4 linked regions of the Homo sapiens genome follow. The protein of the gene in region 4 purifies or fractionates together with the protein of the main gene of each other region. This does not show direct contact. Each region holds a gene or a part of one and is shown on either strand. Other genes may lie near its edges. The genes, in order: ZC3HAV1, KNOP1, MAK16 and RBM28.

Evidence for each region.
Region 1: the proteins of RBM28 (region 4) and ZC3HAV1 purify together in Homo sapiens (affinity purification with mass spectrometry; 2 studies listed by BioGRID and IntAct, with this or other methods). This does not show direct contact.
Region 2: the proteins of RBM28 (region 4) and KNOP1 purify together in Homo sapiens (affinity purification with mass spectrometry; 2 studies listed by BioGRID and IntAct, with this or other methods). This does not show direct contact.
Region 3: the proteins of RBM28 (region 4) and MAK16 purify together in Homo sapiens (affinity purification with mass spectrometry; 2 studies listed by BioGRID and IntAct, with this or other methods). This does not show direct contact.

Annotation. Positions count from the first base shown.
Region 1 is NC_000007.14:139,043,704-139,050,728, forward strand, and holds part of ZC3HAV1 (zinc finger CCCH-type antiviral protein 1), read right to left. Parts: intron 4,151-7,025; coding exon 3,891-4,150; 3' UTR 1-3,890.
Region 2 is NC_000016.10:19,715,228-19,722,476, forward strand, and holds the start of KNOP1 (lysine-rich nucleolar protein 1), read right to left. Parts: upstream 3,001-7,249; 5' UTR 2,931-3,000; exon of another isoform or gene 2,854-2,930; coding exon of another isoform or gene 2,676-2,853; exon of another isoform or gene 2,124-2,675; intron 1-2,123. Other genes in the region: IQCK (IQ domain-containing protein K), read left to right, coding at 3,080-3,260.
Region 3 is NC_000008.11:33,480,958-33,488,190, reverse strand, and holds the start of MAK16 (protein MAK16 homolog), read right to left. Parts: upstream 3,010-7,233; 5' UTR 2,985-3,009; coding exon 2,970-2,984; intron 1-2,969.
Region 4 is NC_000007.14:128,333,898-128,340,922, forward strand, and holds part of RBM28 (RNA-binding protein 28), read right to left. Parts: intron 5,895-7,025; coding exon 5,736-5,894; intron 5,425-5,735; coding exon 5,330-5,424; intron 4,905-5,329; coding exon 4,829-4,904; intron 4,446-4,828; coding exon 4,353-4,445; intron 3,306-4,352; coding exon 3,234-3,305; intron 2,146-3,233; coding exon 1,950-2,145; intron 1,783-1,949; coding exon 1,646-1,782; intron 1-1,645. UniProt on the Homo sapiens protein: Nucleolar component of the spliceosomal ribonucleoprotein complexes.

The sequences.
Region 1 (7,025 bases), about 11 Mb from region 4:
CTCAACCCTCAGGGGGCTTACATTCTAATGCAGAAAGCAGATAATTTCAGTTTGGATACATAATACAAATTATCAAAGCAAGGCGCAAAGTATTTTAAAAATAAGGGGTTTGGGAGGCCAAGATCTGACCTATTCTGTAGAAGGACTCCTTAGGAAAGTAACAGTTGAGCCAATCTAAGGATGCTAGATATTCAGTAGGTCAGTGGAAAAAATCAGTGGTTCTCACTGTGGTCAGTGGGTTATTGGTGGTTTCATAATAACTGGGGACTACTCCCAGCACTGAGTGGATGCAGCCAGGGAGAACGATGTCCTGCAGTGTGTGGGTTAGTGCCACACAACGAAGAATTATTCTGTACCCTGTACGACTGTCTAATGTCCTGCTGGACATTTAGGTAGGACCTACAGCTTGTCCGAGAGAGTAACTCATTTGTTTTCTCTGAGACAATCTGTAATTTGTCTTGTCCTATTATCCTTAAGTAAGGTAATTTCGCTCTTTCTTTTCCCATATACAGATTATGTACATAGTCTGTTTTGTCTTTACCCTAACACTGGTTTTCATTCTAGTGTCCCCCACCCGTCTAGTTTCATTTTCCTGTACTTGTTTACAGGAAGTAGCCTCTAATCGGCTCTTAAATCCAAACCTACTCATTACAAGGAAGAGTAAACATCTGTCTGTTTCAAACAGCGTAGTCATGCCTGAGCGTTTACATAATGAAATTCATCTTCTTTTCATTATAAATTTCTTCTTTTCTATTTCTCCTTAATAAGAGAGTTAGGGCATTAAATTGATTTTTTTAAGAAATTCATGTGTGTAAGTAGATTGTATTATCTATGAGTCATTTCAGGTCAGCAAAGAGAATGTTACAAAATATCTGCTCTGAAAAAGGTGAATAGATCTGATAGGGTTTGTGGTTGTCACCGTGACTGGGCGTGGGGGTGGGGGCGCTACTAGCATTTAGTATGTGAGAGCCAAGTATGCAGAACATCTTGCAATACATTGGACAGTTCCTCACAATAAGAAATTACTCTGCACCCTATACGAATTTTGAATGTCTCACTAGACATTCATGTATGACCTATAGCTCGTCTGCAAGAATATATCCTCATTTTCTCCACTTCGACAACTGTACATTTTCTTGCATAGTATCTTTATTTCAATAAAGGTTATTTCGTTCTTTCTCTTATATACAAATAAGTATTGTCATATGCAAAGAAGTTATTGTATCCCTAGTTTTTATTCTAATGCCCACTGATATCCCTGCTTTTACATTTTCCCACATATGATCTGATCTCCTACCTTCTAAGTTCAAATTGATGCATTATAAATAGTTGTAAGCATCTGACTACTTCATTAGGTCTTCAGTTACAGCTGTGCCCAAGTTAGGTACCTTTTATTTCCTCTTTATGTTCATATTAGTTTTATTTAATTTTTAATTTATTTCTAAAATTGTGTGTAGGTGGAGCATATTACCTCTGAATTGGATTTGGAGGATAATAAAGAAGATGTATTTCTATTTGTCGTTTAGAAAAAAAAAGGCAGAAATGCCCATTGAAAACCACTGAACTAGCTAAAAATGGGAACCACAAAACTGAAAGGAAGCCAGAGTGGCTTGCGCAGAAGAAACTAAATGATAGAGGGGTAGGGGAGGGAGAGATCACATGGGGCCATGACAGCGGTTTTGAACTTTATCCTGAAGACTTGATGTGTGTTTTGAATGTGCATTACTAAGTAAATTTTAAAAAATATAACCTTCTTGCTCTGAAGAAAACACAGCAAACAACTTAGAAGGGAACAGAGATATTTAAGAGGTAAAACTAGACTTAGAAACTGCTTAGATGTTTATCAGGAGGGAGAGGAAGGAGTCAAAGATGACTTCCAGATTTCTGCTTGAGCCAATGGGTAGATGGTGATGCTTTTCACTTACATACAGATCCTGAGAGAGGAACAGGTTCATGTGAGGGAGGTAGATGGAGAGTTCCACTTTGGACATATTGAATCAAAGATGCCTGTGAAATATCCAGCTAGTGGTGTCTAATGGGCTGTTGGAAAGAGTTGGACAAACTGCACCCCTACAATGTGAGGGTCAAGTTCAGAAAATGAACACTCCAAAACGAAAGTTACCATGAAAGAAATAAGTCAATGAGAATAAGCATTTGTAGTAACTCTCCCAGAAAATAACTCTACTCTAAAAAAACTATTTTTTTTTTTTTTTTTTTTTTTTTTTTTTACCGGTGGAGCTGTTTAAGCCAAGGAGTTGTGGAGATCTCTGTGATGATCCAAAATCTGACTAATATAAAATCAACTCTGATGCTAATTAAATCTGACTTATAACTTGTCTGCTAAAAGAAATTATAACAGGAAACTTTGGTGACTGGTAAGGAATGTTGAAAAGGGAAAATCAGAAGGAAAAACCTGGTTCATAAGAAGGAAGGAAATATTGGTCCAAGCACGTCAAGGGCTCTAAGTAAAAACCGATGGCACTACAATTCCACATAATCCATTACATTTGGAAAAAGAAGCTCCTGGTAGACACAGGGCCTCTTTGGGATATTGTTCTTTGTTCTGATTCTGTGCTCACCAGGAAACAAATTTCATCTCCGTAGGGGGCCCGTCCTTCAGTAGGAATGGCCCTGCTCCTAGGTTCTTGGCTCACTTGCCAAGACTACAATAGCACTCGCGTTTATCAGTTATGCTTGTGTGAAGCTGGTTATTGCAATTCATTGTTCTCAAAATACTTTCATGAAAAGCCTGACCTGAGAAAAAGCCTTCTCTGTAATCATATTAATTAGAACATAAATGTCTACTTTGCCATAATTATACAAAGAGCCCAAATGGGCAATTAACTCCAGTTGGTTGCTTCTCTCTGAGCCTTACTTGCCAGCTCTTATTACCGCATTCCAGAGAGAGTCAACCTGGATGGAGTTTGTCCCCTAAATAAATGTAGCGATAAAGAAAAGGGTGCTCCAAATCAGTTTCATCAGAATGATAAGGTACAGTACTGCAGCCATGTCTGCAATAGCACTTCAATTTTACTTTTTTTTCCCCTAGCATGTCCTTAAGCATTTTCTCCCCAGCTTTTCACAATCTTTCTTCTAAGGCTGTAATGTCTTACATCCTTAATAGGCATGATTAGATTTCTCCCAAATTTTCCAAATTAACTTTCTTTCAATGTAACCAAAACAAAACCATGGCATACAGTAAACTAAAAGGGTAGACAGGAGAGAAAGGTTGCTGCAATTACAGAAAATTTAGAAATCAGCCTTTACCAGTTACATCTGAGACAAGGTAAACTTTCCAACACATTGGAATCATCAGAAGGGCTTTAAAAAATACAACTGCCAGCCGGGCATGGTGGCTCATACCTGTAATCCTAGCACTTTGGGAGGCCAAGGCGGGCAGATTGCCTGAGCTCAGGAGTTTGAGACCAGCCTGGGCAACACAGTGAAACCCTGTCTCTACTAAAAAATACAAAAAATTAGCTGGGCGCGGCAGTGTGTGCCTGTAGTTCCAGCTACTCGGGAGGCTGAGGCAGGAGAATTGCTTGAACCCGGGAGGCAGAGGTTGCAGTGAGCCGAGATCGCGCCACTGCACTCCAGCCTGGACGATGGAGTGAGATTCAGTCTCAAAAAAAAAAAAAAAAAAAAAAATACAACTGCCTGGCGCTGACGCCCAGAAATGATTTCATTGGCATGGGGTGCAACCTGGGCATCAGAATTTGTTTAAAACCTCCCAGATGATTCTAATATGTAGCAAAATTTGGGGACCACTGATCTAAGACATTAGATAACTGAGCAGGAAAATATAAAACTTTAACTCCTGTCTGCGGCAATTTAGTTCTGTAAAGGAACAGAATGGTTATGGCATCCTTCTGACGCTGTATTCATCGGTTCTAACTAATCACGCAGGCTTTGTCTTCAGTATATTCAATCACATATTGTGGGTAAACCTGATCTTTCTGAAAGATGACAAAAACGGAGGGATTCGATCTGGTATCCACACAGCTGTCGAACTGTGGAGGAGGGCTCGTGTACGTTATATTTCCTTCAGTAAACTTTCCAACCAGAACTTGGGCTACAAACATAACGACGTTTTTGGCATCATACGGGCAATTTTTGTGGGAATAGATGGCATCTTTTGCAAAGTAAATTCCTAGAAAGAATCAGAAAGAAAAGTTAAGAAATATTATAAAAGAAGGTATACAGTTTATAAGATTTGTTATATACAGTCAGATGGGTGTGGACTAAGCATATGTCAATAATACCTTACTGATATTTATAAACTTTCCTTTGCACTTAAAAACATGTTAATGATGCAGGCGAACTTAAATACAGTATATAACCCTATAGAAATGACTGAGGAATATTTGCTACAGTGCAGAGCTCATGCTGATAGTGTGAGCCATTGGGTGCAATGACCAAATGACAATGTCACAGTGGCCCAATTCATGCAATTCACCCAGTGTGAGCTGAATGAGCAAACTTGGAACTGATGAGTCAGTTGATGCTTCGTCCTCAACTCTAAAACAACCTCAGATAACGATTGCTGCTTCCATACACAGCAGACCAACAATTTCCTGCCAAGTTAAAATTTTTATTTTTATCATTGTCAAGTGCTACTCTGGGCAGGTGCAGTGGCTCATGTCTGTAATCCCAGCATTATGGGAGGTTGAGGCGGGTGGATCACATGAGCCCAGGAATTTGAGACCAGCCTGGGCAACATGGGGAGACTCCATCTCTACAAAAAATTTAAAAATTAGCCGGGCATGGTGGCGTGCACTTGTAATCTCAGCTACTCAGGAAGCTGAGGCAGGATTGATTGAGCCCAGGAAGTTGAGGCTGCAGTAAGCTAGGATCATACCACTGCACTCCAGCCTGGGCAACAGAGTGAGATTCTGTATCAAAAAATACTAATAATATTTTCTAAGAAAGCTACTCTGTCGTTTTAAAGACCATGAGTAGATATTGCAACTCCTATTTCCATGCAAGAATCAATAAGTAAAATGAATTGTTTTACTTGTGGTAACAAATGTTTAATATACTTCCCATCTACTTTGTTTTTGTTCTTTTTATCATTTTATAGTTAGATGTTTGAATTCCAGAAACATTGCTTATCCTGAATAGGTCAGATACTAGATATTCTGTGCAAATGATGTTCTACTATATTTAAAGTAAAATATGGAAGTCTACCTATACTGACCTACGACGTCCAATCCCACTCCCCTTCCCAAAACAGTTTATGGCTGGCGGGAATTCTTTCACACCTGTTTCTATGCATTCACATACATATATGTGCATATGGTGGTTTATGGTGGTTTACTTGTTCATAAATAGGATCATAATATATGAACTGTTCTACAACTTTTTTTTCCACTTTAGTCCTAGAAATCTTGCTATGTCAGTACATCCAACTCTCTCTCTCTCCTTTTTTTTTTTTTTTTTTCGTTGTTGTTGTTGTTGCTGCTGTTTTTGAGACAGGGTCTCTGTCACCCAGGCTGGGGTGCAGTGGTGCAATCTTGGCTCACTGCAGCCTTGATATCCTGGGCTCAAGCAATCTTCCCACCTCAGCCTCCCATTCTAATCGGTGCGAGGCAACAGCTCATTGTGGTTTTAATTTGCGTTTGCTTGATGATTAGCGATGTTGAGCATTTTTTCATGAACTCATTGGCCATTTGTATTTCTTCTTTTGAGAAATGTCTATTCAAGTCTTTTGCCCATTTTTGAAACTTTTATTTGCATGTATTTTACGCTGAATTTATTCCCGTGCTGTAAGTTTTTGCTTCTTCAGTATCTTCTAGGATAGCTTTTTCTTCTGTGCACCTCCTCTTCTGGTTTAGGAACACGGTGTGCTTCTTCAGGAAGATTGTCTCTATGTGGCAGGGGGAGCTTAGGCATGAGTTAATCCAACCATGAGCTCTGGAAGTCTGGTGGCACATCTTGGGTGCTTTGTGCGCCTGAATATCCTCGACGACCAGAGAATCTACAGCTCAACCCTTACGTTCAGCATTACTCTCTGCATTTTTAAGTGTGTACAGCAAGAATTCAATTCTTTTGGGGTCACAAACTGCGTGCCCAGCCCCACTGTTTGGTCTGGGCACTCCTACCAACTCCACCCTCGTAACGTTGGAATGGTACACATTGTTTCCATACAGTGACATCTTTCAGACATTTGCTGGCTTTTCATATAGGCGTACTCTTGATGGCCTGGGCAGTTTCATGGGTGTCCTTAGAGTGAACATGAAGATTTGAACCTCTTTATTTGCATGATTTCATGGAGTTTTCTGGGTCAAGTGAATAGTGAACCATTTTCACAGATCACCGCAGGCCACTTATGGGAACAGCTTGCACATTTTAAAATTGAGTTATTTGTTCTCTTGCTGTTGAATTGTTTAAGTTCCTTACATATTTTGGATATTAATCCCATATCAGATGTATGGCTTGCAAATATTTTCTCCCACTCTGTGGGTTTGTCTGTTCACTTTGTTAATTGTTTCCTTTACTGTGGAGAAGCTTTTTAGTTTGATGCTATCTCATTTGTCCATTTTTGTTTTTGTTGCATCAGTTTTTTTATATCACACTTATATAATCTGGAATCTATATTTTCTTTTTTTAAAATTCCCTTTATTGTGTTAAGAAAGTTCATTTCTATTCCTACATTTCTGAGTGCTTTATTTTTTTCTTTTTTGAGACAGAGTTTTCCTCTGTCACTGAGGCTGGAGTGCAGTGGCAGGATCTCAGCTCACTGCAGCCTCCCCTTCTTGTGATCAATCAACTCTCATGCCTCAGCCTCTCGAGTAGCTAGGACTACAGGCATGTGCCACCACGCCCAGCTAACTTTGTATTTTTATTAGAGATGGGGGGGTTTCACCATGTTGGTCAGGCTGGTCTCAAACTCCTGACCTCAGGTGATTCACTCACCTCGGCCTCCCAAAGTGCTGGGATTACAGGAATGAGCCACAGTGCCTAGCCTAACATTTCATTTTTTAGGATAAATATTTGTTTGAATTCTAACATAGGATAGACCTGTA
Region 2 (7,249 bases), on a different chromosome or scaffold from region 4:
CCTAGGTTCAAACCTAAATGCCTCTCTCACCTTAAGTAAATCAGCTAACCTCCCTGAGCCTCAATTTCTCCATCTGGAAAATGGGGGAATATAACACCTCCCTCCTCAAAAGGGTGTTGGAGGGAGTAAATGAGATAACCCATGGAAAGGGCTTGGTACACTGTTAATTCCCTTTTTCTTTTTCTCTTTTTTTTTTTTTTTTTTTGAGACAGAGTCTTGCTCTGTCACCCAAGCTGGAATGCAGTGGCGTGATCTCGGCCCACTGCAACCTCCGTCTCCTGGGTTCAAGTGATTCTCCTGCCTCAGCCTCCCCTGAGTAGCTGGGATAACAGGCACCCGTGATCATGCCCAGCTAATTTTTTTTTTCTTTTTTAGGAGGGACGGGGTTTCTCCATGTTGGCCAGGCTAGTCTCAAACTCCTGACCTCAAGTGATCCGCCCGCCTCAGCCTCCCAAAGTGCTGGGATTACACGCATGAGCCACCTTGCCTGGCCTAGTTCCACTGTTTTTAAAATTTGAAGTTGATTGCCAACACTGAATGAGTCACAATGATGCACAGTACTGAGGGCACCCAGCTTGTCTTGGACAGATATCGTGGAAGCACCTGTGAGAATGGGCTGGGGTCCTCAATACCCATCAGTGTCCAGCTGGACCACTGCTCTCACTCCAGTCCCCAGCCAAGTTCCTGCACTAGACATTCCCAGAATCTAGAAGCAAAATATCCCAAAATATTTCATAGCAAGTTAGGATCATGGGAGGGAAAGGAAAAACTTCTCCATCCTGCAGCCCTCCTCAGCTTCGGAACTCAGAGGGTCCACACTGGAGCTGGCTCTCTCTTAGCAGCTTCAAAGAGCCAGGCCTGAGCTACAGGTCAAGTTCATTCATAACCCACTCCAGGCGCACCTGGAGAGTCAAGGGAATAACTATACTCATTCATTGCTGTCTGCCCTGTTTCCTGGTTTATTTCCAGTGTCCTGCTCAGTGCCTGGCACATAGCAGGTGCTCAATACATACTCACTGAATGAATGCACACATGCTAGGGATACAGAGATGAACAAGATAAAACACCACCCATCAAGAAGCAAGTAGGTGTGGGAGGGAATAAGGTGTAATACAATGATACAGGTGATAAAAGCAAGGACAGTGCTAAGGTCAGGGTGGTGGAGGTTGTGGAACCTGTCCTACCAGTTGTCAGGAAAATTTCTGAAGAACAACTGCAGGATGGTGGTATTAATCCCTGAGACAAAGGTACTGAAGGCAAGTGGCTGAAGAACAGGCTTGATTGGACAGATGACTTGGAGATGTTCACTGGACAGGTGAATATATATGGATGAGGAGTTTGGGTGGCCGTGCTGACACGGGCGACATAAAGTTAGGAATGTATGGGTGGTGATAAGCCTTGAACAGAACAAGCCTGAGACAAGACTTCAAGAAATACAGTAGCTCGCCACCTAATCCCAGGTTTCCGTTACCCCTGGTCAACCCTGGTCCCAAAATAGGTGAGCACAGTACAGGAAGTTATCTTGAGAGGGAGACCACATGCATGCAACTTTTATTACAGTATACTGTTGTAATTGTTCTATTTTATTACTAGCTAGATTGTTGGTAATCGTTTACTGCACCTAATTTTTTGTGAGACAAGGTCTGGCTCTGTTGCCCAGGCTGGAGTGCAGTGGCATCATCTCGGCTCACTGCAACCTCCACCTCCCGGGTTCAAGCAATTTTCACGCCTCAGCCTCCCGAGTAGCCGGGATTACAGGCACATACCACCACGCCCGGCTAATTTTTGTATTTTTAGTAGGGACGGGGTTTTACTATGTTGGCCAGGCTGGTCTCCAACTACTGGCCTCAGGTGATCCGCCCGCCTCATCCTCCCAAAGTGCTGGGATTACAGGCATGAGCCACCACGCCCGGCCCTACTGTGCCTAATTTATAAACTTTCTCATAGATAGTATACACAAGAAAAAACAGTTATATTTAGGGTTCGGTACTGTCTGTGGTTTCAGGCATCCACTGGGGGTTTAGGAACGTACTGCCCGCGGATAATGGGGGAGGGGGACTATTGTATTGGCATTTAAATAAGTGGGCAGAGATAAAGGAGCTTGCAAAGAAGAAGGTGCAAACCTTGAAATAGTGTAGTCAGGAGAGCCAAGACGACTTCAGAATAGGGGAGCAGTCAAGAGAGCCAAGACGACTTCAGAATAGGGGAGCAGTCAAGAGAGCCAAGACGACTTCAGAATAGGGGAGTGGCCAAGAGATCTGGTAAGAACAAAGAATCCACCGGGAGGTTGCGGGTCAACTCTTAATCCCCTTCTCTCCCCATCTCTTGCCATTTAGAAAAGTATAGCATCCTCCTCTTTAGCCCTGCGACCAAATGCATTCACTCTTTCAAGGAGAAAGGAAAAGAACGTTACAGTGCATCTCCTGCAAACGCAAACGCTTTCTCCAAAACCGCTTTTAAATTCCAGGGACAGCCTTGTGAAGATCTTTGTGAATACCCGACCTCGCAAGCTCCAGAGACTACAATAATTCACTTGCCCTAGGTTCCAAAGCCAGCAAGTGGAAAACGGAGACTGGAATTCCGCCCACAGGACTCCAAAGCCTGTGCAGCAACACCCCACTCCCCCGGCAGGATCACCAGCAGGACGCGCGGGAGCCAGGAAGTAAGATCCGTACCTCCAAGGCTCCCATGGGCCCAAGCCTCCGCATCAACAGACTGGGAGGGATTACGTGGGGTCCCAGGGCCGGCTCTGAGGCGGGAAAACTTTCTGGAGGCGGCGGCCTCAGGCCGGAGCGGGCGCACACCGACTGGAGGGGTCGGATTCAGGGATGTGGGTGGACCGCATTTCCCCATCTTCCCCGCCGCGCACTTCCTCTGGTGCAATCTCCACACCCCGCGCCGGCCCGCCTGCAACGCGCCCTGGCACTCACCGGTGGGCGAAATTTCCCCGCCTCCACGTGAGAGCCAGCTCCGCCGTGACCCGGAAGTCCACTTCGAGTCGCCGGCCCACCCTCTCGGGTTCCGGCTTCTTCCGGGTCGCGGCCTTCCGGCGAACGCGGTTACCGTGGAAACCGCGGCCATGGCGGCACCGCGGCAAATCCCCAGCCACATAGTGCGCCTCAAGCCCAGCTGCTCTACAGACTCGTCGTTCACCCGGACGCCGGTGCCCACCGTGTCTCTCGCGTCCCGCGAGCTGCCTGTCTCGTCGTGGCAGGTCACCGAGCCGTCAAGCAAGAATCTGTGGGAGCAGATCTGCAAGGGTAGGAAACCTGGGCTGGCCGAGAGGGGCGGGACCCGGGCGGCCGGACGGGGGCCGCGTTTGGGGAGCGCCCACTGTGCGCCTGTCGGCTGACGGGCGGGGCCGCCGGGCAGCGGCTCCGCGGGCCCGGGCTCCGCATTTTACGCATGGGGAAACTGAGGCTCGGAGAGGCTGGCCCGAGGTTACGCAGCGCGGACTCCAATCGCGATCCGTAGTGAGGTTAAAGGCAAGGGAACGGCGAGGGAAAGCTGAATAAAGAGAACCATGCGGTGTGGACCATTGGTTCTTAAACCTCGGTTAGTGAACCGAAAGGAATTGCTGGGGCGGGGGCCGGGGTGGGGATCTTGTTATAAACGGAGGTTCCCAGGCCCCGCCCACAGAGCTTCAAATTGGGATGCAGGGAATCTGCACTTTTTAAAAGAGCACCCCAGGTAATCCTAACGTAGGTAGTCGGTGGCCCACACGTTCAGTAACCATGGTGTGGACAAACGGGTTTTAGTCCCTTCTTGCTTCAAACCTTCCTTAACCTCCCCAGGCGGAGTTGAGCACATCTTCCTTTGTGGCTCTACTCAGTATTTGTTACTTAGGTTGGGCAAATTATTTAACTTATGACCCTGTCTGCAAAGTGGGCATAATAATGGCACCTATTTCGATGGTGTTAAGAAGATGGAACCAGATAGTCACAAAAAGTGCTTAGCAAACTGCCTGATTTTAGGAGGGCAAAAGGATTATTGGGGAAAAAAAAACACAAACTGCTCGATTTACAGAAGGAGCTACGTAAGCGCTAGTTCTTAATGAATAATGTTGGGTGGGATGTTTTCTTTTTCCTCCACTAGACCATAAGCTCCTCAAGGTCAAGGACTCAGATTTTTCATTCGTGTGGCCACCATCACTACCTAAGCTGCCTGAAACAGCGCGGTGAAACCCCGTCTCTACTGAAAATACAAAAAAAAAATTATCTGGGCGTGGTGGTGTGCGCCTATAATCTCAGCTACTTGGGAGGCTGAGGAAAGGGAATTGCTTGAACCAGGGAGGTGGCGTTGCAGTGAGCCGAGTTTGCGCCACTGCACTCCAGCCTGGGTGACAGAGCGAGACTCCATCCCCAAAAAAAAAAAAGTGTGGTTAGTTAGCATTTGAAATGTGATTAGTGCAATTGAGTAACTGAATTTCTTGTTGGACTCAAATTTTTTTTTTTTTTTTTTTTTTGAGACGGCATGTTGCTCTGTCGCCCAGGCTGGAATGCAGTGGCACTGGCTGGGCTCACTGCAACCTCCGCCTCCCGGGTTCAAGCATTCTCACACCTCAATCTCCTGAGTAGCTGGGATTACAGGCACCCGTCATCATTCCTGGCTAATTTTTTTATTTTTGTAGAGAAGGGGTTTCACCATTTTGGCCAGGCTGCTCTTGAACTCCTGACCTCAGGTGATCTACCTGCCTCGGCCTCCCAAAGTGCTACAATTACAGGCCTGAGCCACCAGGCCCAGCCCAGACTTAATTTTAATAAATTTAAATAGCCACATTTGGATAGTGGCTGCTGTATTGGATAGTGCAGGTCAGTAAATGTTTATTGAATGGAAAAAAAGAATGAATGTACCAGTATATGCGATGACTCGAAAGAAGTGGAGAATACAGAGAAGGAAGAGAATAGTAGACTCAGTTGATAGATGCCCTCCAAAGCTGTCTGTTTCAACCCCATCCAGTACTTAAATTCCTTCTCCAACCTTACATTGTGCTAGAAAAATCCCTTTCATTTTGCATGTTCTCTTTGTCACTTTCACCCCTACGTCCTTACCTCTTGGTGCTATGATCCAAGGAGCTAATCACTCTACCCCAAAGAATCTACTCAGATAATTTGACGGTAGTTATTGTGGCTGCCTTTTCCCCAGAGCTTTCACTTCTCCAAGCCAAACAGTTTCTTATAATACAGTTTACTAGAGGATTGTTAGAAAAGTTACTCAGCCTCATCTGTAAGAGACAGATAATTGTTGTGCCTACCTCACAGGGCTGTTGTGGGGACCAAGTAAGATAATGTATGAAAAGGTGCTTAGCACAGTGCCTGGCATTTAAAAAGTAGTCAATAAATGTTCATTATTGTTGACAAAGAAACATGCCTTGTGTTGTGATTTACACACCGAGTTTATTTTGGTCAAATAGGCCTCTAGAGAGAAAGCAAAGACAAAGGGTTTTGGTTCTCTCTGAAGAGCAAGTGAATTGATGCCACTTTTAAAATGATAGAGTTACAGAATGAGGTCAGGCATGGTGGCTCACACCTGTAATCCCAGCACTTTGGGAGGCCAAGGCGGGTGGATCACCTGCGGTCAGGAATTGGAGACTAGCCTGGCCAACATGTTGAAACCCTGTCTCTACTAAAAATATAAAAACTAAGTCAGGCTTGGTGGTGGGTAATCCCAGCTACTCAGGAGACTGAGGCAGGAGAGTCGCTTGAACCTGAGAGGCGGAGGTTGCAATGACCTGAGATCGTGCCACTGCACTCCAGCCTGGGCAACAAAGTAAGAATCCGTCTAGAAAAAAAAAAAAAACAATTCAGTGAGGTCAACATTGGCAAACTATACACATGGACACTGTGATGAGTATTATAACAGATGGATAAACCCAATTCTTAAACATCTAACAAATGCAGTTTTCTATAACATGTAGTAAATTCAGTTTCTGACAACAAACATGAAAAAACAGGCTTTGTAGTAATCCTATCTTTGAGATTAAGTACTACATTCTCTTAAGATAATCTCCATTCAAAAGACAAATTATCATAGCAAACAGACCTGCCAGAAACTCAATTTCATGAAGACAAAATACAAAGTAGGTCAATATCTAACTTACACAGACCTTAACCAACCTGACTAGTGCTCTTTTGTATGTATGTGCATGCTCACCACTATAACTTATTTGTAAATATTCTTCAGTTTTCTCCCTCATCTTTCCAGTGACAACTGAGTTTTGTATTCTAAAAAGCACTCGTGTTAGTGTCAATAAACTTCTTCCCGGCCAACACTTCTAATCAAATCTTATAGTAGTTTGTGACTAGCTGTGTTCATGGTTTTAATCAAGACAATCAAAGGATGTGGGGCTTAACAGTTTCCTTTTTTTTTTTTTTTTGAGATGAAGTCTGGCTCTGTCACCCAGGCTGCAGTGCAGTGGCGCAATCTCGGCTCACTGCAACCTCTGCCTCCCAGATTCAAGCAATTCTCCTGCTTCAGCCTCCCAAATAGCTGGGATTACAGGCACCCACCACCATGCCTGGCTAATTTTTTGTAGAGATGGGGTTTTGCCATGTTGGCCAAGCTGGTCTCAAACACCTGACCTCAAGCAGTCAGCCCGCCTCATCCTCCCAAAGTGCTGGGATTACAGGCGTGAGCCACCGCGCCTGGCCTTACAGTTTCCTATTTTGATATGCTGTGATTACTGTTATCAGCATCCTCACTATTGTCATTGGTTCATCACTTAATCAAGCACTCTCTGGCCTCAGCCCTCAATGCTGTTGTAAAATCTGGCCTTTCATTTCACCTGCCAGATACCGACATGGATCAGTTGTGAATCAATACTTGTTCCTCCAGCACAGCCACTGAGCCAGCTGAAGAAAGATGACCCCAACTGGCTCTCAGCACTGCTCAGCAATCAGCATCTCTCAATGCCTTCTCCCATTGCCTGGTTCTACTAGTCCAAGTCTGTAACACCTCCTGAAATGTTCTGTGATACCTCTTAGCATAGGATGCGTTCACTGAGAAGAGTCAGGCAGTCAGGAGTGGGGAGGGAGTCTGCTAACATCCATCTGTACACGTGGAAGAAGCTCTCACCCCGCTACTCGCCACTCAGCTCTCCATCTTTGCTTACCGTCCCCTTGCTATTCCAGGATCCTGCTTTATCACTCACTTCCTCTGCTACGCCTTTAACTTCTCTACTAGCTTTTTCCTCCAAACACCCCTGGCCTGTCATATCAGGAAGAAACCTCCACCATGACCCTATATCCTC
Region 3 (7,233 bases), on a different chromosome or scaffold from region 4:
TTTGGGAGGCTGAGTTGGGCGGATCACCTGAGGTGAGGAGTTTGAGACCAGCCTGATTAACATGGAGAAACCCTGTTTATATTAAAAATACAAAATTAGCTGGGCATGGTGGCGCATGCCTGTAATCCTAGCTACTCGGGAGGCTGGGGCAGGAGAATCGCTTGAACCCAGGAGAGGGAGGTTGCGGTGAGCCGAGATTGTGCCATTGCGCTCCAGCCTGGACAACAAGAGTGAAACTCCGTCTCAAAACAAAACAAAACAAAACAAAAAAGCCCAGCAGATTCTTATAGAAAAGCTAAATACAGATGAGCAATAATCATAACTCCATTACCCAGAGATAAAATTTCATTACTATTCTGTAAATATTTTTCCAGACTTTTTTTGACATACTCTGTGAAATCACATTTTATATACTTCGTAACTTTCCCTTTTTACTTATGTTCATTATCCATTATTAAAGGCTCTCATGGGCCGGGTGTAGTGGCTCACACCTGTAATCCCAGCACTTTGAGTGCCAAGGCAGGCGGATCACTTGAGGTTGGGAGTTTGAGGCCAGCCTGGCCAACATGGTGAAACCCCATCTCTACTAATAGAAAAATTAGCCAGGTGTGGTGGCAGGTGCCTGTAATCCCAGCTACTTGAGAGGCTGAGGCAGGAGAATCGCTTGAACCCAGGAGGCAGAAGTTGCGGTAAGCCGAGATCACGCCACTGCACTCCAGCCTGGGCGACAGAGTGAGAATCCATCTCCAAAAAAAAAAAAAAGGCTTCATGGTATTAGATTTTTAGATATACATACCATAATTTTATCTCATTGAGGGCAAAGAAAACTATCTACTGCTATCCTCCTGTACTTAATGTGCTCTTTATTCATTCAGCATTATATACTTAATTTATGTAAGGCACTGACATCTCCAAGTCCTGACACACAGTAGCCACTTAAGTATTTGCTGAATGAAAGAAAGTATACTCTTTAAAGAGTTTCGTCTATCTAGTTAGGGGAAAGATATGTAAACAAAGTATCACAAAATAGCAGGTCTAAAGGCCACATAGCATGCGTAAGAGTATGACAGCCTTTGAGTGCGCTGCCTTGAGGAACTGGGGTAAAAAAAAGCTTTACCACTGTTAAAGGAAAAATATGAAGAGGGCAAAAGAATAAAACACACTTTAAGAATTTTATAGGTGTGTCTGGTGGGGGATGGTAGGAAACAGGTAAGAAGAATAAGGGAGCTCTTTTAGGCTTGTGGCTTTAAGTATCATCTCTAAATGGATGACTCCTAAATTGTTATTTTCTGGTCAGACTTCTTTCCTGAGCACCAGATTTTTATATGACATCTCTTCAATATCTAAAAGGCAACATAAATATTAACATATCCACAAGGAGTTCTCAATTCCACATCCCTCGTAAGAACAGTCTTCCCTAGAGTTCCCCCACTTCAATAAATAAAATCACCATTTAACTATGTATTTATATCCCAAATCCTTTGATTTCTTCCTTTTCTTCTTCACTTAATCCATCACCAAAGTCTTGTCAATTATACTGACGTAAAAGGTCTCAAATTCATCAATTTCTTTTCATCTCCACCATTAAATTACTACCTTAGGCGAAGCCACTTTCGTTTTTAAAAAAATTTATTTACTTTAGAGATAGGGTCTCTCTGTCACCCAGGCTGGAGTGCAGTGGTGCCATCATAGCTCACTGCAGCCTCGGACTTTTCGGCTCAAGTAGTCCTTCTGCCTCAGCCTTCGAAGTAACTGGGACCTCAGGCGAACACCACCGCGCCCAGCTAATTTTTTATTTTTTGTAGAGATGGAGTCTCACTTTATTGCCTAGGCTGGAATCGAACTCCTGGCCTCAAGCGATCCTCCAGCCCCAGCCTCCCAAAGCGTTGGGATTACAGGCATGAGCCACTGTGTCTGGCTTGAAGCAACCTTTGTCATACCCTAGTCTCCTTGCTTTCATTTTTTCCCTCCAAAAGTCCTTCACACAGCAACTAGACAACTTTTCACAAACATAGATCATTAAAAGGCCTAAAAAACACTTCCTACAAGATTCTGCATGACCTCGCCCTGGCAAGCATATCTAATTTCATTACCTGTCTTACATTGTCACTTTGATGACCCTTATATTCATTCTCTCATATCTTCAACTCTTTGTACTTTACTGTTCCTACTGCCTGGATTGCTTTTTCCTCAGCTCCTCAGTGACTGGCTTATTCTTATCTTTTAGATCTCAACTCAAACATCTTCTGTTCAGAGAAACCTTCCCTGAGTAACCCTATCTGAAGTGTCCTTCATCATCTCTGGTCTTTCTTTCATAGTATGATTATATAGTGTAATTGTTAACTTATTTGTTCACTTGTTTACTGTGTCTCCCCCATCAGTGTTCCAGGAGAGGTGGGACATTTTTTCTGGTTAACCAAATCCTCAATAATTACCACAATGCCTGGCACACTGTAAGCACACTGTTATTTCTCCAACAAAAAACTCAATGAATGAATCTAGGATACTTCCGAAATTATGACTTAGGCAGAAGTAGAGCAAATGTAAAGAAAAGCCTACACAGGAAACGCAGATGGAAGAGTAACGCGCACATGGATGAGAAGGACGCTTAAACTTGGAGTCAGCTTCGCCAAATCCCGGGCCGCCCCCCACCCCAAGTCCGGAGCTGACAGCTGACAGCTGACAGCATGACGCGACGTCCTGCATTGGTAGGCACGAAGGACGGGACACATCGACCCCATGGGCTGAGGTGACGGAGTCCTGTGCTCACAACCCGGCCGGGGCAGCGGGCAGTAAACCCCTGCTAGACACGCGTGAGAACCTATGTTGGAAAATCGGGGTTCCGGAAGCCTCACATCCAGAGCGGCACGAGGCAACAGACCCGCTGCGTACGCGTTTTCTAAGTGTCCGAAAATGGGCAAAATTCCCTGCGCAAACCCCGGGTGTAAGAACAACCGGAGGAGACTCACATCATCCGACTGCATGGTGTCCGCGGCTCAGCGTGCAACTTCCGGTCGGATCGCGGGCGCAGACATGCTCCTTCCGGGAAACCAGTTCCGGAACGCGCAGCCTCACCTATCTCGAGAAACGCTGAGACTCTCGGTGTTGCGAAGCGTCCCCTGGCAGTCTCGTCGCCGCGCGCGCGCCCCCGCGTCTTCACCACGCTGGCGTCTGCGCGCGCCCGTCCGCAATGCTGGGCTTGTTCATGGGCGCAGCCTGGAGCTGGGAACCCTGTTGGGACCCAGTGCGATCCGCGGGAGGCAGGACGCGCGCAGTCTGCCGAATCCTGGAGCGCGGGGACCGCGGGGGTCGGGCGTGCTTCCCTAGCGCCCTGTTTGTGACCGTTCATGAGGATGGGACCCCTCCCTGTCGGGCCTCCCCTCTGCTGGGAGGAGGCTGGGGAAAGCTGCAGGCGGCGCGGCGGGGCTGGGTCCCCGCTCCTCCGAGTCCCCCGGCCCCAGCTCGCAGCCAGGCCCCGGCCCTGCCCCTCAGACCCTGACTTAGCCACTCCCCACGCCCACGTTGGGTGCGGCACCGGGTCCTGACTTTAGAAACTCAGAACTTGAATTCCTCCTGCTTTGAGAAACCACTGACCAAATGGAAAGAGCATTCCAATAATAATAAACACCTGTGTCTTCCTCATTGCCTATTTGAGACAACAAACAAAGTTGATAAGGGAGGGAAAATACCAAGAAGAAAAGTAGAGGTCTAATAACCCACAAAAACAAATCTGGAAGCCTAACAGCTCTTTTCCGCCAGGGGAAAAAGAAAATCTTTACTAGTTTGTATCGTATTATAGAAGAAAGACTGTCGGCCGGGCCGGGCGCGGTGGCTCTCGCCTGTACCTCAGCACTTTGGGCGGCCTAGGCGGGCGAGTTCCAGACCAGCCTGGCCAACATAGTGAAATCCCGTCTCTACTAAAAATACAAAAATTAGTCGGGCGTGGTAGCAGGTGCCTGTAATCCCAGCTACTTGGGAGGCTGAGGCAGGAGAATCGCTTGAACCCGGGAGGCGGAGGTTGCAGTGAGCCGAGATCATGCTGTGGCCCTCCAGCCTGGGTGACAACCAAAACTACCTCTCAAAAAAAAAAAAAGAAAAAGAAAAAAGAAAAGGAAAGAAAGACTGTCAAGAGGCATTTGAACCAGAGCAACCCCATCTTGAATAGTGGCTGGGTAAAATAAGGCTGAGATCTGCTAGGCTGCATTCCCGAGGGTCAGGCCATCTAAATCACAGGATGAGGTCAGCACAAAATACAGGTCATAAGGATGTTGCTGATAAAACAGATTGCAGTAAAGAAGCCAGTCAAGACCCACAAAACCAAGATGGCAATGAGTTTGACCTCTGGTCGTCCTCACTGCTACACTCCCACTGGCGCCACAAATGCCATGGCAACATCAGGAAATTACTCTATATGGTCTAAAAAGGAGAGGCGTAAGTAATCCGCTCCGTGTTTAGCATATAATCAATAAATAGGCTGGGCTTGGTGGCTCACGCCTGTAATCAGCATTTTGGGAGGCCGAGGCAGGTGGATCACCCGAGGTCAGAAGTTCAAGACCAGACGGGCCAACGTGGTGAAACCCCATCTCTACTAAAAATACAAAACTTAACCAGGCGTGGTGGTGGGCACCTGTAGTCCCCGCTACTTGGGAGGCTGAGGCAGGAGAATCACTTGAATCTGGGAGGCAGAGATTACAGTGAGCTGAGATCAAGCCGCTGCACTTCAGCCTGGGCAACAGAGCAAGAATCAGTCTCAAAAAATACATGAACAAATAGCGATAAAAATGGGCAACCAGCAGCCCTCGGTGCCGCTCTGCCTATGCAGTAGCCATTCTTTCATTCCTTTACTTTCTTAATAAGCTTGCTTTCACTTTACGAAACTTATGGACTCACCTCAAATTCTTTCTTGCTTAAGATCCAAGAACCCTCTCTTGGGTCTGATTGGGGACCACTTTCCAGTAACAAGACCATTTTAATAACAAAAGTGTAAGAAGGACACAGTCTCAGTAAGGATGGCGTGTGTCCGGGAGGCCACCCACAGGTCCTAGAGGCTGCCTGTGGCTTCTTGCCACATGGGATTTCTCAACATAGCTCCTTACTTCATCAAGCCAGCAACGAGTTAAATTCCAGTCTGCTAAAACAGAATCTTAAATAATGTTAATCTTAAATAATCTTAAATAATCTTAAAAAATTATGGCAGTGACTTTCCATAGACTTTGCCTTATGCCATTGGTTAGATCAAGTCACAGGTGCCACCCTCACTGGAGGGGAGGAGAAGATACAAGACATGAACACCAGGGAGTGGGACTCACTGGGGTCACCCTAGGGATACCCTGGATTTGACTGCAACTGAAACACATGAGAAATTTGATATAAAGTTTAAAAGCATTTATCATGATATTATGTAGTATTTAGTGAGGCAGAGCTTGCGGTGAGCCGAGATCCCGCCACTGCACTCCAGCGTGGGTGACAGAGCGAGACTCTGTCTCATTAAAAAAACAAACAAACAAAAAGTAATCTCCAGTTCAAAAGAAGAATGAAAGAAAATTTAGCCGTGTGCGGTGGCTCACACCTGTAATCCCAGCACTTTGGGAGGCCAAGACAGATGGATCAGCAGGTCAGGAGATCGAAACCACCCTGGCCAAGATGGTGAAACCCTGTCTCTACTAAAAATACAAAAATTAGCCGGGCGTGGTGGTGGGTGCCTGTTATCCCAACTCTTCGAGAGGCTGAGGCAGAGAATTGCCTGAACCCACAAGGCAGAGGTTGCAGTGAGCTGAGATCGCACCACTGCACTCCAGCCTGGGTGACAGAGCGCAACTCAGTCTCAAAAAAAAAGAAAAGAAAAGATAAGAAAATGTAATGCTATTTCAACATTCTCTATACATACCCGCATTCTCCTCTGTTACCACAGTGCACTATGTATTCCTCACTAGTGTTGTATTATTGTTATTGGTTTATTATCTCTTAGGCCTTGAGCTTTTCTGTTTTTTTTTTTTCTTTTCTTTTTTTTTTTTTTTTTTTTTTTGAGACAGAGTCTCACTCTGTTGCCCAGGCTGGAGTGTAGTGGTGCGATCTCAGCTCATTGCAACCTCCACCTGCTGGGTTCAAGCGATTCTCTTGCCTCAGCTTCCCAAGCAGCTGGGACTACAGGCGTGTTCCACTATGCCCAGCTAATATTTACATTTTTAGTAGAGACAGGGTTTCACCATGTTGGTCAGGCTGGTCTCAAACTCTTGACCTCAGGTGATCCGCCCACCTTGGCCTTCCAAAGTGCTGGGATTACAGGTGTGAGCGCCCAAGCCAGGCCAACGTTGAGCTTTTCAAGATTAAGGATGATGTCTTTTCATTTCTTTATCCACAATCTCCTGTACAGTTCCTGGTACATAATAAATTCACAATAAATTAGTTGTTAGGTCTCTATTTACTTATTTATTTAGAGACAGGGTCTCCGTTGTCTTACCTTCCAGGCCTCTGCCACCTTCAGCCACTCCCACAGCAACTTTTCCCAGAGCTAACCCTGGGCAGAGTCAGGTTTCCTATGAAGTGTACACACACACACACACACACACACACGAAACCCTGAAGTGTGGAAGGCAGCTTGTTGGAGGATTAAACCTAATAAAGTTGCTCATCTGTAAAGCATGTGTGTTTGCTTGTATACAATCAGAGGAATAAACCATTTAAGGAGAAGAAAAATACATAGTTTTTTGTTGTTGTTTTAGCAGAACCACAGAGCTCCCCAAAAGGAAGAGATGTGCAGGAATGAATTTAGACCCTCTCTCTATAAATCTTGTCAGGCACTGTGGCTCACGCCTGTAATCCCAGCACTTTGGGAGGCTGAGGCAGGTGGACCACCTGAGGTCAGGAGTTTGAGAGCAGCCTGGCCAACATGGCGAAACCCTGTCTCTAGTAAAAGTACAAAAAAAAATAGCTGGGCATGGTGCTGGGCGCCTGTAATCCCAGCTACTTGGGAGGCTGAGGCAGGAGAATTGCCTGAACCAAGGAGGCGGAGCTTGCAGTGAGCCGAGATTGCGCCACTGCACTCCAGCCTGGGCAACAGAGACTCCATCTCATTAAAAAAAAAAAAAAAAAAAAAAAAAAAAAAAAAAAAAAAAAAGAACCTCTCTCTGTAAATGTAATGACTAGCTGGAAGAAATGGGAGTCATTATCAGAGGTCTAGCATCACTTTATTTTGTTTTTTCTTTCTTTTTTTTTCTTTATTAACTTTCAGGG
Region 4 (7,025 bases):
AAGACATTTCCATATACTACTATGACAGTGTAAACTTTCTGGAAATACTGTATAGGACATAGGAAACTTTGAGGAAAAAACATACACATACAATCACACACAAATTATAAAATACACTACATTTTGAATGTGTATATGTGTGTGTATATGTGTGCATTTTGCTTATAAATGTATTAAAATATCTATAGATACACAAGAAACAAATAACCTTGGTTGTCTCTGGGGAAGTTCCCTAAGAAGCTGAGGATCTGGGTATAAGGGAGACTCACTGTTTGTTTTCAAGAACAGACATATAAGCTTATACATACAAAGAAAATATCTGGAAGGATGCACAAGAAACAACAGTGATTACTTCAGGGAATTGTTAGGATTGGTGAGAAACTTCTACTTTGTGTATTACACTCTTCTGTGTTGTGTTTTAACTTTTTATCATTATCATTTATCTGTCCTATAAGTTTTTTAGGTGAAAGAATGGCATGAGACAGCTGACTGTGGGTTGTAGAATACAGGATCTCAGAGTCCCTTCAGTGTAGAAGCTTCTTTGATTCTAAGGTGTATACCATTCTCTCCTCACAGAAAAAGCTTATTTCCTCAGATTTCTTATATGGTCAAACCAACATGTCAGACTTACTGAAATGGAATCAGAATAAAAACAGCTGAAATAAAAATCTCCACCCAGACAAATCAAAGAACCAGTTATTAGCCATTTCTCATTCTGTAATGACCTGCCTTCCTCAATAAACAAGTTGAATTTATTCTCAATAAAGGTAGCAATAAGGATTGGCTAAAGTTTTACAACATGTTCAAAGAGGTCCTTGTTATGGAACGCACTGTGTTCCCCCAAAATTCATACATTGAAGCCCTAACCCCAAATATAATTGTATTTGGAGACAGAGACTTTAGGGAGGTAACTGAGGCTAGCTAAATGAGGTCTTAAGGTTGGGCCCTAATCTGATAGGATTGCTGTGCTTATAAGAAAAGAGAGACCAGAGTTCACTGTTACTTGTTCTCTCTCTCCCCTCGTCAAGCCACAAAGAAAAGGCCATGCAAGCACATAGCGAGAAGGCAGCAGTCTGCAAGCTAGGAAGAGAGCTGCACCCAAAATGAATCAGCTGGCACCTGGGACTTCTAGCCTCTAGAGCTGTGAGAAAATAAGTTTCTGCTGTTTAAGCCACCCAGTTTATGGTATTTTGTTATGTCAGTCCAAACTGACTAAACAGTTCTTTATCCCCATCTCAACTCCAAGGAGTTGTTTAAAATCTAGCTTGATGTTGAGATGGTTATATCATCTGTTTCATCTATATTATCTGTATAAGATGCTGTTTACCTGGTTATTCTATCAAGTTGGACAATCCAGAGAGAGGTAGAACCTCAGCATTAAGCTAGGTTTTCAATTCCCTAAGAATCTTAACCCTCAAACACCACTCCAAAACTCACTTAAAAAACAAAACAAACAAAAAGGAAACAACAAAAAAACCTTTGGAAGAAAGGAGTATAAAGGTTTCCTTTTCAGCATTTAAACATAAATTTGATAGAACACCTTAGAGTCCTATTTAAAAAGAGATCTAAGCAGAACTGATGCTCATTTCCGTAACTTCAGTAACTTTTTTAAAGTCTAAAGACATTTATGAAAATCCAAACAAACCTTTATCCTCTTGCTCCTCAGTGCTGGTATCACTCTGAGCCAGTTCCTCTCCATCATCAATACTATCGCTTTCCTCTAGGTCACTGTCCTCCTCAGAATGATCACTGCTTTTTGCAGGGGCTGGTCTCTTGACTGCTCTGCAATGGCACAGATCAGAACTAAGGAGGTGGGCTGACAGAGGGCCTATTCAATTTCATTACACATGTCAATTCTGCAATGATGCAGGCAGAAAAAGGAGAATTTTTCCTCTCGGAGACAATCTTGAATCTTCCTCTGCTGTCTCAGAACAGGATGAGCTGCTTACCTCTTCTGAATTTGCACAGGCTTGGTCACCTTTGATTCTATATTCTCTTCCTCTTCATCTTCATCATCAAAAACCCCATCTTCTTCATCATCATCATCGTCATCATCATCGTTTTCTTCCTCTTCCATATCCTCTTCCTCTCTGCCCTTCTTTTTAACTGATTCCTGATGTTTAGATTCATGGCTCTTTTCCTCACCTATGGAGGGAGGTAAAGAAAGGAGGAATTCATTTAATATCCAAAACAATGTTATTTTAACAAAAGTAACCAATACTCCAAGTTCTTGGTTTCATCGGTTTTACAGAATTTCGTATATTTTTCTTACTGCATATAACAGGAGAAAGTATAAAGAAAAGAAAAAGCAAAAACAGAAATAAACAAAACTCTCAACACCCAGATTCCTTTAGAGTTTGTCCCATTCATCAGTCTGAAGGTTCATCTGGCCCAGACTGAAAGAAGTGGCAACTGAGCCTCTCCAAGCAGTCTACCATTCGTACATCATAGCCAGCAAAATGCTCACTAGGGGGCAAAGCCAAGCCATGAACTTTAATCTCAGTGCGTTCTATTCTCTGAGACCCTGGTGGCTTACCAGCCAATTGTTTTCTAAATAAACCTCAAGTTTTAAGTTTCTCTATTCTTAATGTTCCATCACTCCTATTATGCACAGCCTGGAAACAACAGCAAGTAAAGGGGACAGTGAACTCAGGCTCACTCACAGCCACTCCCAGGAAGGGGCTTAGACTCAAAAGAGCCTAGGTTTTGGGACCAGAGCACCAAATGGTACAATATGAATTGACAAACAGACCTGGACTCACTTCTGAGCCAGCAGGAATTCAGAGTTTTCCCTGAAAGCCCAGTCTCATTCTTTTGGTTAATCTTCCACAATAGTCTTACTCTGATAAGCAGGTTCTCTTACACTTTTTTTTTGAGACGAAGTCTCGTTTTGTTGCCCAGGCTGGAGTGCAGTGGGGTGATCTCGGCTCACTGCAACCTCTGCCTCCCAGGTTCAAGAACCTGCCTCAGCCTCCCAAGCAGGTGGGATGACAGGCGCCCACCACCAAGCCCAGCTAATTTTTGTATTTTTAGTAGAGATGGGGTTTTGCATGTTGGCCAGGCTGGTCTCAAACTCCTGACTGCAAGCAATCCACCCAAAGTGCTGGAATTACAGGCAAGAGCCACTGCACCCAGCCTTTTTCTTACACTTTTATCATGAACACAGGAGTTGTTTCAATACTCTCACCCAGGTTATACAACGCCCCTACTCACCCAACACTACCACATCTTACCTATAGCAGAAACAGACTGTGTATCTTTATATTTATCCTTTGCCACGGCCCAATCCACAGCCACTGTCCGGCCTGTCAAGCAGAAAAGTGGCATCAGAAAGGCTCTCCTTTTAAAAACCCTACCTCTGTAAATGACCCCTAGTCATCACAGACAATAATGGAACCAGTGGAGACAAAGAAACTGCCAATTCAGGGAATGCTGGTCTTAAAATAAAGCTCCTAGTCACTGCCTACTCCTTTTAACCCTTAACCTTTTTATCAATGAACAGAAATTTTGCCTTTCTACATAGCCACCACACCTGGGATAAGATGGAGTAAAAAAATAAAGAATTAGAACTATGTTTCCAGTTAGACTATCAGGAATCAAAACAGGCATTCTGGAATCATCTGCACCCTACCTGGAAGCTAGGACATCTCTACGGCAATAACTTCTTTTTTTTTTTTTTGAGACACAGTCTCGCTCTGTCGCCCAGGCTGGAGTGCAGTGGTGCCATCTCAGTTCACTGCAACCTCCGCCTCCAGGTTCAAGCGATTCTCCTGCCTCAGCCTCTTGAGTAGCTGGGATTACAAGCATGCACCACCACACCTGGCTAATTTTTGTATTTTCAGTAGAGACGGGGTTTCGCCATGTTGACCAGGCTGGTCTTGAACTCCTGACCTCAGGTGATCCACCTGCCTCCTCGGCCTCCCAAAGTGCTAGGATTACAGGTGTGAGCCACCGCACCTGGCCGGCAATAACTTCTTTAGGCACAGTACTTGATAAGTCAATATATAAATCACAGTCAGTTTAATAAATAGCCCACAGATGCTGAACAGTGATATAACCAAGGAGGAATCTAGATACCAACCTGCATCTATCAGCAATTATCTCAGGGACATTTTTCACTAGGGATTTAAAAGGACACTCTCACCAGATAAAAGAAAGAATACTGGCAAGGGTTCTTTCAAGTTTAACCCCAAGATCAAGTTCTAGAGTATTTCACCTAAATAGCTACCGTATTAGCAATGAGACTCTTAATAATGCAAACATCTTTTGAAAATGCAGAAAGTGGGTTACTACACTAATTCACCAAAACACCAGAAATATCTGGGTCAATGATATGGGTATAGAAAGCTTACCTTTTATCTCTTTCATGTTCATGCCTTTGAGAGCTTTACCTGCTTCTAGGAGGTTTTTGAACTGAACAAAACCAAAACCGCGCATCTTCCCATCTGTGTGCAAATGCACAAAGAAAGAAGTGAGAGGCAGCAGGAGGTAGCCAGAATACTAAGAAGTAAATTACTGCAATTCAGGCCCACAAGATGGCCCAAATTCTGCCAGCAGGTCAGGCCCTTCCCCAAAGCAATTGCTTACATCTTCTTACTGAGTATACTCTGACTTGGACTTGGGGAGAGCAAAACACTTTCTCAAACTAACTCGCCTTCTAAAACTAATTCTGATCCAACAGAAAATATCATCAGGGGAATAAAACCATTATTTGGGTTTTCATTAGATGTGAAGCACTGTGCCAAATACTTCATATATATCATATATGTTTGTTCAAGGGTAATATGTTAACTAACGTAATCCACACCAAGTGAAGGTTTATTAGTACCTGGTTTCCTAGGGATATTTACTTCCAGGACAGCTCCAAATTGAGCAAATACTGTCTTCAAGTCATCTTCTGAACACTGAAGCCAAAAGTGAAGAAAGAAAAAGAGAAACACAATCACAGCAAATTAACATAAAACATCAACTACTAAATTCATTAATTATGAAAAACATGAATGTTTACTTTTTTTTATTTTTGATACTAGGACATCAAATGTTTCTAAATAGAAGACATTTTACTTTGTACCTAAGAGGCAAAAACACAGACGTCTGAGAACTTTTTCTACCTTTTCTTTCTCAGTAGTAGTTTCCCCAAAAAGGAAAGCAGCTTCACACTTAGTGCCCTTATTACACAGGCCCACTTTCTGAATTCAACAGGGGTAAGGTTGATTCCCAGAAGGAATTAAGCCCAATTATACCATCTTGGTGAGGAGTTCTACTAATGATCACATCTTGGCTCTAAAAGCCTTCAAAACATGCAATGTTCATTTTCTCTCTCACTTACCTTAAAGCTCAGGTTCCGAATAATTAATCTGGCTTTCTTATCTGCCACTTTGGCTTTTTTAGCCTTCGGCTCCTTCTTTGGGCACTCTGAGTTTTCTAAAAAATAAGAGGTAATGGAATAAGTACTCGAAAATCACCCACTTCTACGCCAGAACATCACAGAAAAAAAAGCTACTGGCGACAGATGGCATTTACCACAGGGTTAAGTGTGGCAATAATACCAAGGAATACCAGATTTTTCCAAAGAACTAAAATGAGTATCACAATACACTGGATGATTTTGGAGATCAAAAAGAAATGCAAAAAGCTTTAAGTTCTAGAAGCTACCTCCATGCCTCCCTCTTTCATTTTCATAGTGCTCCTCCTCACCCTGGGAGAAAAACTTCCTTCAATTACTAGAAACTCACCATTTTTCCCCTTTTCCTTTGTCTTGTTCCTCAGTTTTTTCTTGGCAACAGTCACGTTGATCTTGCAACCTTCAAAGGTGGTAATCTCCTTGAGGGCCCTCTGAACATCTTCCAGCATTGAAAAAGTGACATAGCCAAAGCCTCGACATGCCTTACTCCCTGGAATAATGGAGTGGGGAGGGAGTGGAGGGGCAGTGTGAAAAGGAGAGAGAATCATAAGCCAAGAGCACTAAATGAGTAAATCCTCAAAGCCTAAGCTAGAGGATATACTGCCAACCCATCTTGCTATCAGTTTGCCAAAAGTCTCAGGAGGGCGAGAAACAAGGGTGGTATCAGTGGTTCCCTCCCCACTTTGCTTAGAAACTGTTAGCCTTCCTCCTCTTTTAATTTAGTGTCTTTGCTGTTAGCTCCCCTTCTTCCCCCTTTCTTGATAATCCCAAGAAAACAGAGAATCCATGACATATGAGGCCCTCAAAGAACTCAACATCAAAAAGAACAAAACATCACCAAAGAAGGCAGGAAAGGTAAGTATATGCTATGGTTTGAATGTGTCCCCCAAATTTCATGTGTTGGAAACTTAATCCCCAATGTAGCAGTATTGAAAGGTGGAGTCTTTAAGAGGTGACTGGATCAGAGGACTCTGTCTTCAGGAATGGATTAATCAATTTATGGATTAATGGGTTAATAGATTAATGGGCTATCATGAGAGTGGAGCTGGGGGCTTTATAAGAAGAGGAAGAGAGACCTGAGCAAGCACATTAGCATGCTCAGCCCCCTCGCCATGACACCCTGCACTGTCTGGGCATTTTGCAGAGTCCCCACCAACAAGAAGGCTCTCACCAGATACAGCCACTAAACTTTGGACTTCTCAGCCTCCAGAACTTAAGAAATAAATTTTTCTTTACAAAGTACCTAGTTTCAGGTATTCTCTTATAAGCAACAGAAAATGAATTAAGACAGTATGGTAGCTTCAAAAATCAGAACACAATAATGCAGTTACTCCTCAAAATAGATCAGCAATAAATGCCTGAGGCCCAGACAAAAGAACCTCAAACAATAAATACTGCTCAGAGAGACTGCAGATGTTATGACCACTATTACCAACGCCTTAGCTGTCGATATCAAATTAAACCTTTCCAAAGCAGCTGTGCATTCTTGTCTCATTTTATCTTTAGAACACCTCAAAATAGGTAAAGCAAATATTATCACCCCTTCTTTCCAAGTAAGTAATTTGAGATGGAAGACAGTAAGTGAATTGGTTAATGTCACACAGGGTGTTAGTAGCTGAAT